Linked DNA regions of Homo sapiens. The main gene of each other region encodes a partner of the protein of the gene in region 2 in a complex. Each region holds a gene or a part of one and is shown on either strand. Other genes may lie near its edges. The genes, in order: MED25, MED21 and MED18.

Region 1 (3,747 bases), on a different chromosome or scaffold from region 2:
GTAGACCTGGCAGGGCAGTGACCGCGTCAGCTTGGTGTTGGCATCCACTGAGGCAGGTTTGGGTTTCTGAGGGGGAAAAAAGAGCATGTCAGTAAAAAGGGCCATAAGCCTCAGTCCCCTTGAGCCCTCATGTCCTACCCTGGTAGCCCCAAAGCTCAGGATGTTCCCCAGTTTAAGTCCCATGAGCCCCAGGCCCCTCCTCCAGACCAGCAAGCCTTCAGTTCCTCAAATGTTACAGCTACGTGCCCGGCCCCTAAATCCCACCATCCACTGTGCCCCAGATGATACATCGCCTGGGCTCTTCTCTGGGCCCCAAATCCTGGGCTTTTCTGGGTTCTTTGCATGGGGACTCTCCTCTGTACCGCAAGTCCCACCACTCCATGGGGCTCCTGGCCTCGCCCCGCATCCCACAGGTCCAGCGCAACGAATGCCTCCAAACCCAGCACTGCAGACCCCACGCATCTGGCCCCATGAGTCCTACATGCCCAGCCCCACGGCCCCAGGAGTCCCAAGTGCCCAATGGACCCTCAGGCCCCTCACCTCTTGCCACTCCAGGACCCCGCTCCAGGCCAGAAGCTTATTGGAGACTGACTGCTGCCCACCGAGGGCTGGGGCTCCCAGCTGGGCTGGGGAAGGGCCGCTCACCCCTCCTGGGGCCACAGTGCCTGCCTGCCAGAGGGGAGGAAGGAGGGCCATGAGAATGGGGAAGGCCGGGAGCCTCCGGGGGCCATCCTGTGAGGGCAAACCAGGAAGGAGGAAAGATCCCTTCTTCTGCCCCTCCATCCCCAGAACAGCACTTGGCCAGCCGCAGGACCCCAAATGCTTGGACCTTGCAGGATTCGAGGACTCGTAAGCTGTGCGATGCCCTGGACTCCCAGACCCAGGGATTCCTTGGGTTTCTCGGAACAGCCCTGACCCTCCTGGAGCCATGAGCCTCCCCACTCTGTCCCCAGACCCTCATCTCAGGCATCTGCAGCACACACACCACGAGCCCCCAAAGCCCCAGAACCACGAGAGCCACATCCCCCTGGAAGGCAAATGACTCATCCTCTAACTGTCCTAGCTGTGGACAGCAGGAGGAAGGAGCAGGGGCAGGAGGCGTGCAGGCACCTACCATGGACGGTGCCCCGGGCTGTGCCGTGGGAGCCAGGCCGGAGCCAGGGGCCACAGTGGAGACCAGACTGGGCTGGGAAGCAGGTGGTGGCTTGGGGGCGCCAGGGGGTCCTGGGGGTAGTTGGGGAGCTGGGGCCTGGCTGAAGGGGGGACCCACTCCGGGAGCAGCTTGTTGGAGAGGGGTGATGGGCGAGACTGTGGGAGAGACCAAGGGAAGAAGTGGGGAACAAGTGTGTGGAGAGAGGCCTGCCTGGCCCCTGCCCGCCCTTCATCCTCACTCCAGGACTCACAGCGAGGGCCCAGCCCAGCCTTCTGGTTCTTGGCAGCCTCCACTGCATTCTGCGCGGCCACCTGAGCTGCACTCAGGTTCCCGGGAACCTGTGGGTAGAAGGGAAGAAGGGAAGGGACTGGTGAGGACCATGGCCCCCCAGTCCTGGTATCCCACGAGGTCACACCACCCATGGCCCCATGAGGCACCAGCTGGGATAGCTTAGCTCACAACACCCATCACACAGCACATGAGCTTCCATGGCCCCAAGAGTCCCACCTTCCCAATGTCCCATGGGACTCCCATCATCCCACAAGCTCCAACATGCAACTAGATTTCTCCCCAGGGGCCAGGGCTCCAGCAAGTCCCCAGAAGCATGTCCCTTCCCGGAAATATCCATACCTGGTACTGCGGGGGGACGGGGGGCAGAGGCTGCTGGGGGGCTGCTGAGAGAGTGGCACCTGAGGGTGCGGCGGGAGGCAGGGGGACTGGCTGCTTTGACTGGAGGGGGCCTGGGGCTGAGCCACCCCCAACTGAGAGCAGGAGGGATGGCCAACCCCAGAGAGAAGGGATTCAAGATGCAGAGAAAGGAGAGAAATCCAAAATCCAAGTCAGAGGGAGCTGGGGAAACACGTCGAGCCCCCATCCCCGCGCACGGTGCCCAGGCCTCACCAGGCAGCACGAGTCCCCGAACCAGCACCATGTGCCTCGGGTCCTGGCTCACATCTGTCGGAGGCTGCAGCGGCTCCAGCAAGGCCGGGGGGGCTGCCTTCTCAAACAGAAGCCGAAGCGCAGGCAGCTTCCGGGGAGACACAATGGAGAAGTGGATCCCCCGCTGTAGGAGAGGGGCCGAGCAGTCATGACGGGCCCCCTCCATAAGGGTGTTGGGGCCGGCCCCCAACCTACCACAACTGCTGTGTGGCTGGACGGCACCAGCCCTACAACCACAATTCCCATTGGGCTTTGAGGCAGGAGACCCTGAAACCAGGTATCACCTGCCCCGGGAGACTCTGGGTTCTAGTTTTGTCAGTAAGACTAAGTGGGCCAGGTGTGGAGGCTCACGTCTGTAATCCCAGGATTTTGTGAGACCGAGTCAGGCAGATCACATGAGGCCAGGAGTTTGAGAGCAGTCTGGCCAACATGGTGAAACCTCATCTCTACTAAAGATACAAAAATCAGCTGGGCGTGGTGGCGGGCGTCTATAATCCCAGCTACTCGGGAGGCTGAAACATGAGAATTGCTTGAACCCTGGAGGCAGAGGCTGCAGTGGGCCAAGATCACACCACTGCACTCCAGCCTGGGTAACAGAGCCAGACTGTTTCGAAAAGAGAGTAAGCAAAGCTGGTCACCAGTCTGTGACTATTCTGTGTCTGAGTCCAGGCCCCCAGTGCCTCCCCGCTTAGACCCAAGAGTCCAGGCCCCCAGTGCCTCCTCCCTCAGACCCAGGAGTCCAGGCCCTCAGTGCCTCCTGCCTCAGACCCAAGACTCCGGGCCCCCAGACCCTCGTCCCTCAGACCCTGGAGTCCTCACCTCCCCAATCTGCTGCACAAGATTCTCAGTTGTGCATCCAGAGTACGTGGTGCTCTCAACAGCAGGCAACAAGTATGGGGGTGAGTTGCAGATGAGGAGGCAGACCCGGTGCGTCTGGCCACTACCAGGAAAGAGAGAAGACATGGAGCCAGCAGCAACAGAGGCCCTGAGAAGGAACCCAGACCCAGCACCAGCGGAGATGCACATATTCCGCCTCACATGGAATCAGAAGCAACGCCCCTACTTTACAGCTGAGAACACTGAGGCTCCAAGAGGTTCTGGGATGTGCTCTACGTCACCCAGCAGGCAGGGCAGGCAGGAGTGACACCCAGAGTTGGCACTGCTTCCTGATGGGGATGCTGAGACCGGGCACTGGCCAGGCGTCCCCCAAGGACACACCTGCAGCCTCCTGGCTCAGCGTGCTTGGGGACACAGAGCCCATGCCCTACAGGGTGAGGCTGGAGGTAGAACCACTCGACAGGCAAAGTGGTTCCAGGCCAGGCAGAGAGAGACCGGCCCGGCCTGGGTGGAGGGGGCACTCACATCTGCTCGCGCATCTTCTTGAAGTCATCAAACAGCTGCAAGGCTGTGCTGAGTCCTTCCGCGATGAGGCTGCAGCTCTCACCACCCCCGCCCATGAACCTGCAGGGGCAGAGCGGTCAGCCCCCAGGGTTGCCATCATCCCCATCCCCAGGCTATGCTTGAAGAGCCTGCTCCCATGCTGTCCCCCACTCTATCCTGGGCTATGCACCTTGGGATGACGGGGACCCTGCTGAGTTCCCTACCCAATCCCTGGTGCTAGCACAGCACCAGTCCCAGACAGGACAGGGGACATT
Region 2 (3,747 bases):
ACTTCATTGTGATGACAAGCAAATTAAGGATGAAAAAAAGCAAGGTGAAAAGAAATAGGAAAAATAGTTCAGGATGTAGAAAAATTCTTTCACAACAGCCAGGAAATTCTCTTGACAGAGGATCTCTTGGTAAAATAAACGTGGAGATGAACTAGAACAGGTATGAGGTTCTAGCAGAAGAAACATTTGCATAAATGTGACTTTCTTATCCAGCCACACTAACTCTATTTCTTAAAAGCAACACAATTTCCAAAACTTTCTTGCTCAAAGCTCAGATTTACACAATGCCACCTCTAAGAGGCAGGACACTAGCCCAAACTAAAATGTCCCTTATGTCTGTTCTTACTGTCTTCTCCTTTGGCTTGAGAGATGTTTTGATTTGTAAAAGTACTGGCCAATACAACAAAATGGAGACATAAATTATGTCATAACAGAATTTTACATATGTTTCCTTATATTATGTTCATTAATGTATTACATGCCTTAATAATTTCACTCAGTTAAAAAATGATGGTATGATGCTTTAAAGCTGATTCAATCATGATTTTATAAGCTTATCAAGAGTGAAAATAGAAGACTATTAAAAATAGCTAAAAAGGTAATGTGTCATAGTGTTTAATGTTTCTGTAATTGTTGGTAAGGCTTGTATCTAAGTCTGATGCAGAATTCTTAATGGCACTCAAACAGTTCTTTTCTCAGCCACATGGTATCCACTGATGCTATGAGTCTGGAAGAGACTGGCTATGGGTACCACTTCTTGTCTTCAGCTGTGACTGTGCAATATCAGCAAGTGCGCTTTGTATCTTCTCCAGAAGCATGTCTCCTCGATAAACAACATCCTCCAGACATGTAGCAGCTTCATGGTTTTCTTCTTCTAGCTTATACAAGCTAGCAGCCTTTATAAGACACAAATTTTAAAATCTTTAGAGTTTAGAAAGAGAAGCTGTCACAGATGTACTTATTTTTAAATCTGGATGACTTTGCAATCATTGTGATATGTTTTTCAGTAAAGAAATTCTAAAAATCAGACAACTTTTAAGAATTTTCCCCATGTGAATTATTAAAAAGAATGACTTTTCAATTAGAGATCTCTAGATATCTTTAAGTGACTCCCTTACACATTACGTTTAGACACCATTATTCTACTCCAATTGTAGAATGCCACCCTCCTCTCATTCTTCACTAGGAAAAGAGACAAAATTGAGGAAAATAAGAGGTTTCCTTATAATGGAAATTTGAATATTATAACAAAAGGTGCTATGATTTGAATGCATCCCCTCCAAAATTCATACATTAAAATCTAATCCCCAATGTGATGGTATTAAGAGGGAAGGGGCCTTTAAGAGGATATTAAGTCATGAAGGCAGAGATCTCATAGATGGAATTAGTACCCTTAAAATATGGCTTGAGGTTGAAGAGGGAGCTCTTGCTCTTTTGCCCTTCTGCCTTCAGCCATGTGAGGAAACAGGAAGAAGGCCCTCAACATGGCCCTAAACATGGCACCATGTTTAATAAAAATTCATTACTCATGCACAGTGAGTAATAAATGCCTTGATCTTGGACTTCCCAGACTCCAGAACTGTGAGAAAATAAATTTCTGTTCTTTATAAATTACTGTCTCAGGTATGTTGTTATAGCAGCACAAATGGACACAGACAAAAGGTACTAAATCTACCTCCTTTAATTCAAAATTCTCTATTACTGGTAAAATTCTCAAAGGAATAGAGGCTTACCTGTAAAGCAGCTGTAGATTCTTCACTGGGTAAGGAATCTATCAAAACATCAATGTCTTTTGCTGTTCGTGCAATCAGTGCTGCAAAAAGCTGGGCATACTCTAGAGAAAGATACTGCTAGATTAGGATATTAGAAAACCTCAAGTTTTCAGAAACAAATTTTAAGTTAATGAAACCAGAAACTTCATATAGCTTTTTCTGCCCTAAGATTCTAATGATTCGGCCAGGCGTGGTGGCTCACGCCTGTAATCCCAGCACTTTGGGAGGCCAAGGCAGGCGGATCACGAGGTCAGGAGTTTGAGACCAGCCTGACCAACATGGTGAAACCCCATCTCTACTAAAAATACAAAAATTAGCCAGACGTGGTGGCATGAGCCTGTAATCCCAGCTACTCAGGAGGCTGAGGCAGGAGAATTCCTTGAACCCGGGAGGCGAAAGTTGCAGTGAGCCAAGATTGCATCACTGCACTCCAGCCTAGGTGACAGAGCGAGACTCCGTCTCAAAAAAAAAAAGAAGATTCTAATGATTAAAATATACACCAATCCTGTTACACATTTAGCTCAAATTGGGAATTAAGCATAATGTATGTAATTTCATTTATTATGACAATATAGTGGTCACCTGAATAAAGAAATTTATAAATGGGATGCCTTCCTTGTTAAGGTCCCTCACTCAGCTAAATTAATACAAATTCTCCTCTAAAGGAGTAACAATCTATTATCTGACATGAACCAGAATTATGAGATGTTAGGTGAATTGACTGTAAATTTTTTACAACAAACAAAACTTGTAATATTCTCAAACAACAATAATTTTAGAAATAAAATAAGCTGAATTTCTCAAGAAATCTAATTTTAAAGGATTACAAAAAATGTGAGAGTCAAACTAAGAGAAGCTAAGAAAACCTGTTTACCTTCTGTAGGGTTAGCTGGCTGGTCTTTGTTAATTGCTGTCTGAATATTATTGAAAGAGGCAGGAGGACCACATTGCTGCAATACTCCAATGGCATTACAAAACTGATCTGCAAGCTTAGGCCAAAGAAAACATATCAAGGTTAGAAAGGACTTATCAGTTTTAAGGACTTTATTGGTAATGGCAACAACAATAAGTTTCTGTAATGATAATCTCTGAGCAAGGGAATAAAACAGAAAGGAGTGATTGTTGATAAAATAAGCCAGTTATTATTAATGTTGATTAAACGTTTTAATTCTGCAAAGAAACTAAGTTTGGTATCAATCTAGGTAAAGTTAAATTTGATATAAATCTAGTTGAAACAGTTGAAATACAAAATAATCTTTCTTTTCTTGTGATAGTAAAATGATAAGAGAATATTGGCCAATACTTATTGTAAGCCACAAGTAAAGACTTTTTGGGGATAGTGATGGAAAAGAGCAAATTTGACTTGTAAATATCTATGGCACCATGTTTAATAAAAATTTATTTCTCATGCACAAAGTATATGATTCCTTTTCTGAGACTGGAGTAGTTACAAGTGTAAAGAAATAGTGAGGAAGAGGCTGCTCAGAAAAGCACCTTAAGTAAGCAGAAATGTATTTGTTCAAGACTCAATTTGTAAACTCTTGTACTCTAAAAGTATTCCTTAAGTACTTTTAAAGATTGGGAATAGCAATTCCTTACCATCTCCAAATTAAATACACCTATCTTCCCTACCAATTTCTCTCACCTAGTCTTGACCTCTCAAACCTCCTATTTCTAATAAGTATTTCCACTGGGTTTCTCTGCCATTGTTTCAATGACAGAACTCAAAGGCAACTGTTTCCTCTTTTTAATATTTAATTTGTATTGAAAGTCTCCTAGTCAACCAATCTAACTTCAGATTCTTACTTTCCTTTGATCTTCATATTCTGCTAATACTACAAATCTTTCTCTTTTCCTTCTATCACTGTTGCTTAGTTCAACCAATTATCTCACACCAGAATTATTACAATAGTCTTCTTGTTGTTTTCCAGTTCACCAGGTTATTTATTTTAACCTGATCAAAACATTTAAGCTT
Region 3 (3,747 bases), on a different chromosome or scaffold from region 2:
CACGATGATCTCATTCAATGTCATGGCTTTTAGCTACCATCTATGAGGCTATGGTTTTGAAATCTCTATCTGTAGCCCATTTCTCTCCCCTGAACTTTGCCATTTGGGTGTCCCACAGACACCTGATGCTCAGTGGGTCTACATATGAACTCATCTTTCCTGTCTCACCCACACTGCTCTGTGTTTCCTAGCTTAGAGAAAAAAAGTGCTACGATAGCCACCCAAGACATCTGTGACTCCTTCATCTCTGTCTTTACCTCTGGTTAGTCATTAAAGAATTATTTTCCATATATATATAGAGGACAGAGTCTTGCTCTGTAGCCCAGGCTGGAGAGCAGTGGTGCAATTTCAGCTCACTACAACCTCTGCCTCCTGGGTTCAAGCAATTTTGGTCTCTTGACCACCTGAGCCACCTGAGTAGCTGGGACTACAGGCGTGTGCCACCACACCCGGCTAATTTCCTCTTTTTACTTTTTTTTTTGAGCCGGAGTCTTGCTCTGTCGCCCAGGCTAAAGTGCAGTGGTGCGATCTCGGCTCACTGCCAGCTCTGTCTCCCAGGTTCACACCATTCTCCTGACTCAGCCTCCCAAGTAGCTGGGACTACAGGCGCCCGCCACTACGCCCAGCTAATTTTCTGTATTTTTAGTAGAGACAGGGTTTCACCGTTAGCCAGGATGGTCTCGATCTCCTGACCTCGTGATCCACCCCCCTCGGCCTCCCAAAGTGCTGGGATTACAGGCGTGAGCCACCGCGCCTGTCCTCTTTTTACATTTTTAAAATCTTTTTCTGACATTTGTTTCTCAGCTGGAGTTGTACCAAAGCGCCTAACTGGTCGTTTTTCTTTAATTTTTTTCCAGACAGGATCTCCCTCTGTTGCACAGGCTGGAGTGCAGTGGCGCTATCTCAGCTCACTGCAACCTCTGCCTCCTGGACTCAAGCAATCCTCCCACCTCAGCCTCCCAAGTAGCTGGGACTGCAGGTGCGAGCCACTACGTTCAGCTAATTTTTTGTATTTTTTGTAGACACAGGGTTTCACCATGTTGTTCAGGCTGGTCTTGAATTCCTGAACTCAAGCCATCTGCCCGCCTTGGCCTCCCAAAGTGCTGGGATTACAGGCCTGAGCCACCGTGTCCGGCCTGGTCTTTTTTCTCTAGGCTCTCTCCTTTCCCAAACTTTTCTCCATGTTGTAGCCAGGGTTCTTTTAAAGCTCACATGTATTCTTTGGTATGGCACTGCAGAGTACTCCTGGATCTGGACCTACTCCTTTTCCAGACTCTTTTTTTTTTTTGAGACAGAGTCTCTCTCTGTAGCCCAGGCTACAATGCAGTGGCGCGATCTCGGTTCGCTGCAACTTCCGCCTCCCGCGTTCAAGCGATTCTCCCACCTCAGCCTCCCTAGTAGCTGGGATTACAGGCGCGCGTCACCATGCCCGGCTAATTTTTGTATTTTTAATGGAGACGGAGTTTTACCATCTTGGCCAGGCTGGTCTCGAACTCCTGACCTCAAGTGATCCGCCTGCCTCGGCCTCCCAAAGTGCTGGGGTTACAGGCGTGAGCCACCGCGCCCAACCCCTCAGTTCTTTTTTCTTTTGAAACCCACTATAATCTCTGTAAGTCCTATCAGTTCCAAGAGACTTTCTACACAAATACATCTCCAGGTTGTCAAACCTAAAAAGATTTTCCTAGAGCATGGCCTATGACGTCAAGGATCCAGGTAGCGCCCGGAGGAAAGCGCCAAAGGAGGCCGCCATCTTTCATACAGCAGCCCGGAATTTTGCGCATGCGCCTCTGATTGTCTGTCCGCAATGAAGCTCTTCGGCCTTCTCGGCACCCATACGTTTGGGAACGGCAGTTTCGAGGTTTGTGAGACGTCGGCTTCCGACCGGAAGTGAGAAGAGGAGGAAGTTGGCTGGTTGCACCGATCTGGGGGCTTCCCGGGCTCGGGTAACCGGAGTGCTGGTATCTAATCGTCGCTCAAAAGCTCCTAGGTGCGCGGGTGGATATAATTCCCGGCTTCTCGAGAAGACACTACAGCCTCAAGGAGGTGTGCTTCTAGTGTTTAATTGGATACGTGTTATGGATGCCGGCTTAGAAGGACCTATATACCATCATCTTAAAATAACTTCCCCTTGGCTCTCTCTCTCTTTTTTTTTTTTTTTTTTTTTTTGAGACGGAGTTTCGCTCTTGTTGCCCAGGCTGGAGTGCAATGGCGCGATCTCGGCTCACCGCAACCTCGCCTTCCGGGTTCAAGCGATTCTCCTGCCTCAGCCTCCTGAGGAGCTGGGATTACAGGCGCTCGCCACCAGGCCTGGCTAATTTTTTGTATTTTTAGTAGAGTCGGGGTTTCTTCATGTTGGTCAGGCTGGTCTCGAACTCCCAACCTCCAGTTGATCCGCCGGCCTCGGCCTCCCAAAGTACTGAGATTACAGGCGTGAGCCACCGCGCCCGGCCTTGGCTCTCTTTAAAAGGCATTTTTAGGCTAGCCGCAGTGTGGTCTCCCGCCTGTAGTAGTCCCAGCTACTCGGCTTGAGCCCAGGAGTTCGAGGTTATAGTGAGCTAGGAACTCCCCACTGCACTGCAGCCTGGGCTACAGAGCGAGATCCTGTCACCAAAAAAGAAAAGCGTACGGGGGAAGGCATTTTCAGAGAGATAGAACGCCTAGATGTTAGTTTGGTCCAAACTCTGCTACCAACTTGCTGTGTGTATCCTTCTGTCCCTCTCCAAGTCTCAATATCCTCATCTATAAAACGAAGGTCCCTTAAGTCACTTTTTCAGTTCTTCTGAATTTTGTTGCCTCTTTATTATCTCGTTTGAGCCACATAGCCTTGGGAGTTAAAAATCACTGGCCTTTGGCCGGGCACGGTGGCTCACACCTGTAATGCCAGCACTTTGGGAGGCCGGATCACCTGAGTATCACCTGAGGCCAGGAGTTCGAGGCCAACCTGGCCAACATGACGAAACCCCGTCTCTACTAAAAATACAAAAAAAATTAGCTGGGCTTGGTTGCGGGCGCCTGTAATCCCAGCTACTCGGGAGGCTGAGACAGGAGAATCGCTTGAACCTGGGAGGCAGAGGCTGCAGTGAACAGAGATTGCGCCATTGCACTCCAGCCTGGGCGACAAGAGTGAAACTCCGTCTCAAAAAAAAAAAAAAAAAAAAATCACTGGCCTCATTTTATAAGGAAGACATTGAGTCCCAGGGTGAGGGGTTATAGATAGGACTTTCTCAAGATTGCACAGGTAATGTGGAGGTTTCAGAACTTGAGACTAGAAGGTAATGCTGTAACTCCATGACCAGATCTCCTTTCTATATTTCTGTGTCATCAGTTCCTGGAACTGGCCATATAAGGAAATACTCAAACGTTTTTGAATGAATGAATCTTTGATTTGAAGGCCAGTGCCACAACAGATCTGGTCTCTCTCCACCACTTTGATGTATAAACAAGTGAACTCTTTTCCAGGTATATCCCGTGCCTTACCTGACTGGGGGCTCTGAGTCCAGTTGTGTTGTCTTCAACTTAGACACCATGGAGGCACCTCCAGTCACCATGATGCCTGTCACTGGGGGCACCATTAACATGATGGAGTACCTGTTGCAGGGTAAGTGAACTAGGGAACTTGGATTACCTGTTTTCCTCTTCTCTGTTCAGCTTCCCTTAAGATGAGAGACTTAACACAAAAGCAGCCTGCACAGTTTCTGGCACCCAGCTATGTTTTTAACTGTTACTTTAAATTATAGTTTTATATGC

The links.
Region 1: MED21 (region 2) and MED25 share a complex: the UniProt entries of both Homo sapiens proteins name them as parts of the mediator complex.
Region 3: MED21 (region 2) and MED18 share a complex: the UniProt entries of both Homo sapiens proteins name them as parts of the mediator complex.

Annotation. Positions count from the first base shown.
Region 1 is NC_000019.10:49,828,255-49,832,001, reverse strand, and holds part of MED25 (mediator of RNA polymerase II transcription subunit 25), read right to left. Parts: intron 3,554-3,747; coding exon 3,455-3,553; intron 3,033-3,454; coding exon 2,912-3,032; intron 2,217-2,911; coding exon 2,054-2,216; intron 1,915-2,053; coding exon 1,784-1,914; intron 1,492-1,783; coding exon 1,404-1,491; intron 1,309-1,403; coding exon 1,115-1,308; intron 670-1,114; coding exon 541-669; intron 67-540; coding exon 1-66. UniProt on the Homo sapiens protein: Component of the Mediator complex, a coactivator involved in the regulated transcription of nearly all RNA polymerase II-dependent genes.
Region 2 is NC_000012.12:27,025,434-27,029,180, reverse strand, and holds part of MED21 (mediator of RNA polymerase II transcription subunit 21), read right to left. Parts: intron 2,762-3,747; coding exon 2,647-2,761; intron 1,835-2,646; coding exon 1,734-1,834; intron 897-1,733; coding exon 720-896; 3' UTR 1-719. UniProt on the Homo sapiens protein: Component of the Mediator complex, a coactivator involved in the regulated transcription of nearly all RNA polymerase II-dependent genes.
Region 3 is NC_000001.11:28,327,138-28,330,884, forward strand, and holds the start of MED18 (mediator of RNA polymerase II transcription subunit 18), read left to right. Parts: upstream 1-1,902; 5' UTR 1,903-2,043; intron 2,044-3,148; exon of another isoform or gene 3,149-3,238; intron 3,239-3,459; 5' UTR 3,460-3,525; coding exon 3,526-3,598; intron 3,599-3,747. UniProt on the Homo sapiens protein: Component of the Mediator complex, a coactivator involved in the regulated transcription of nearly all RNA polymerase II-dependent genes.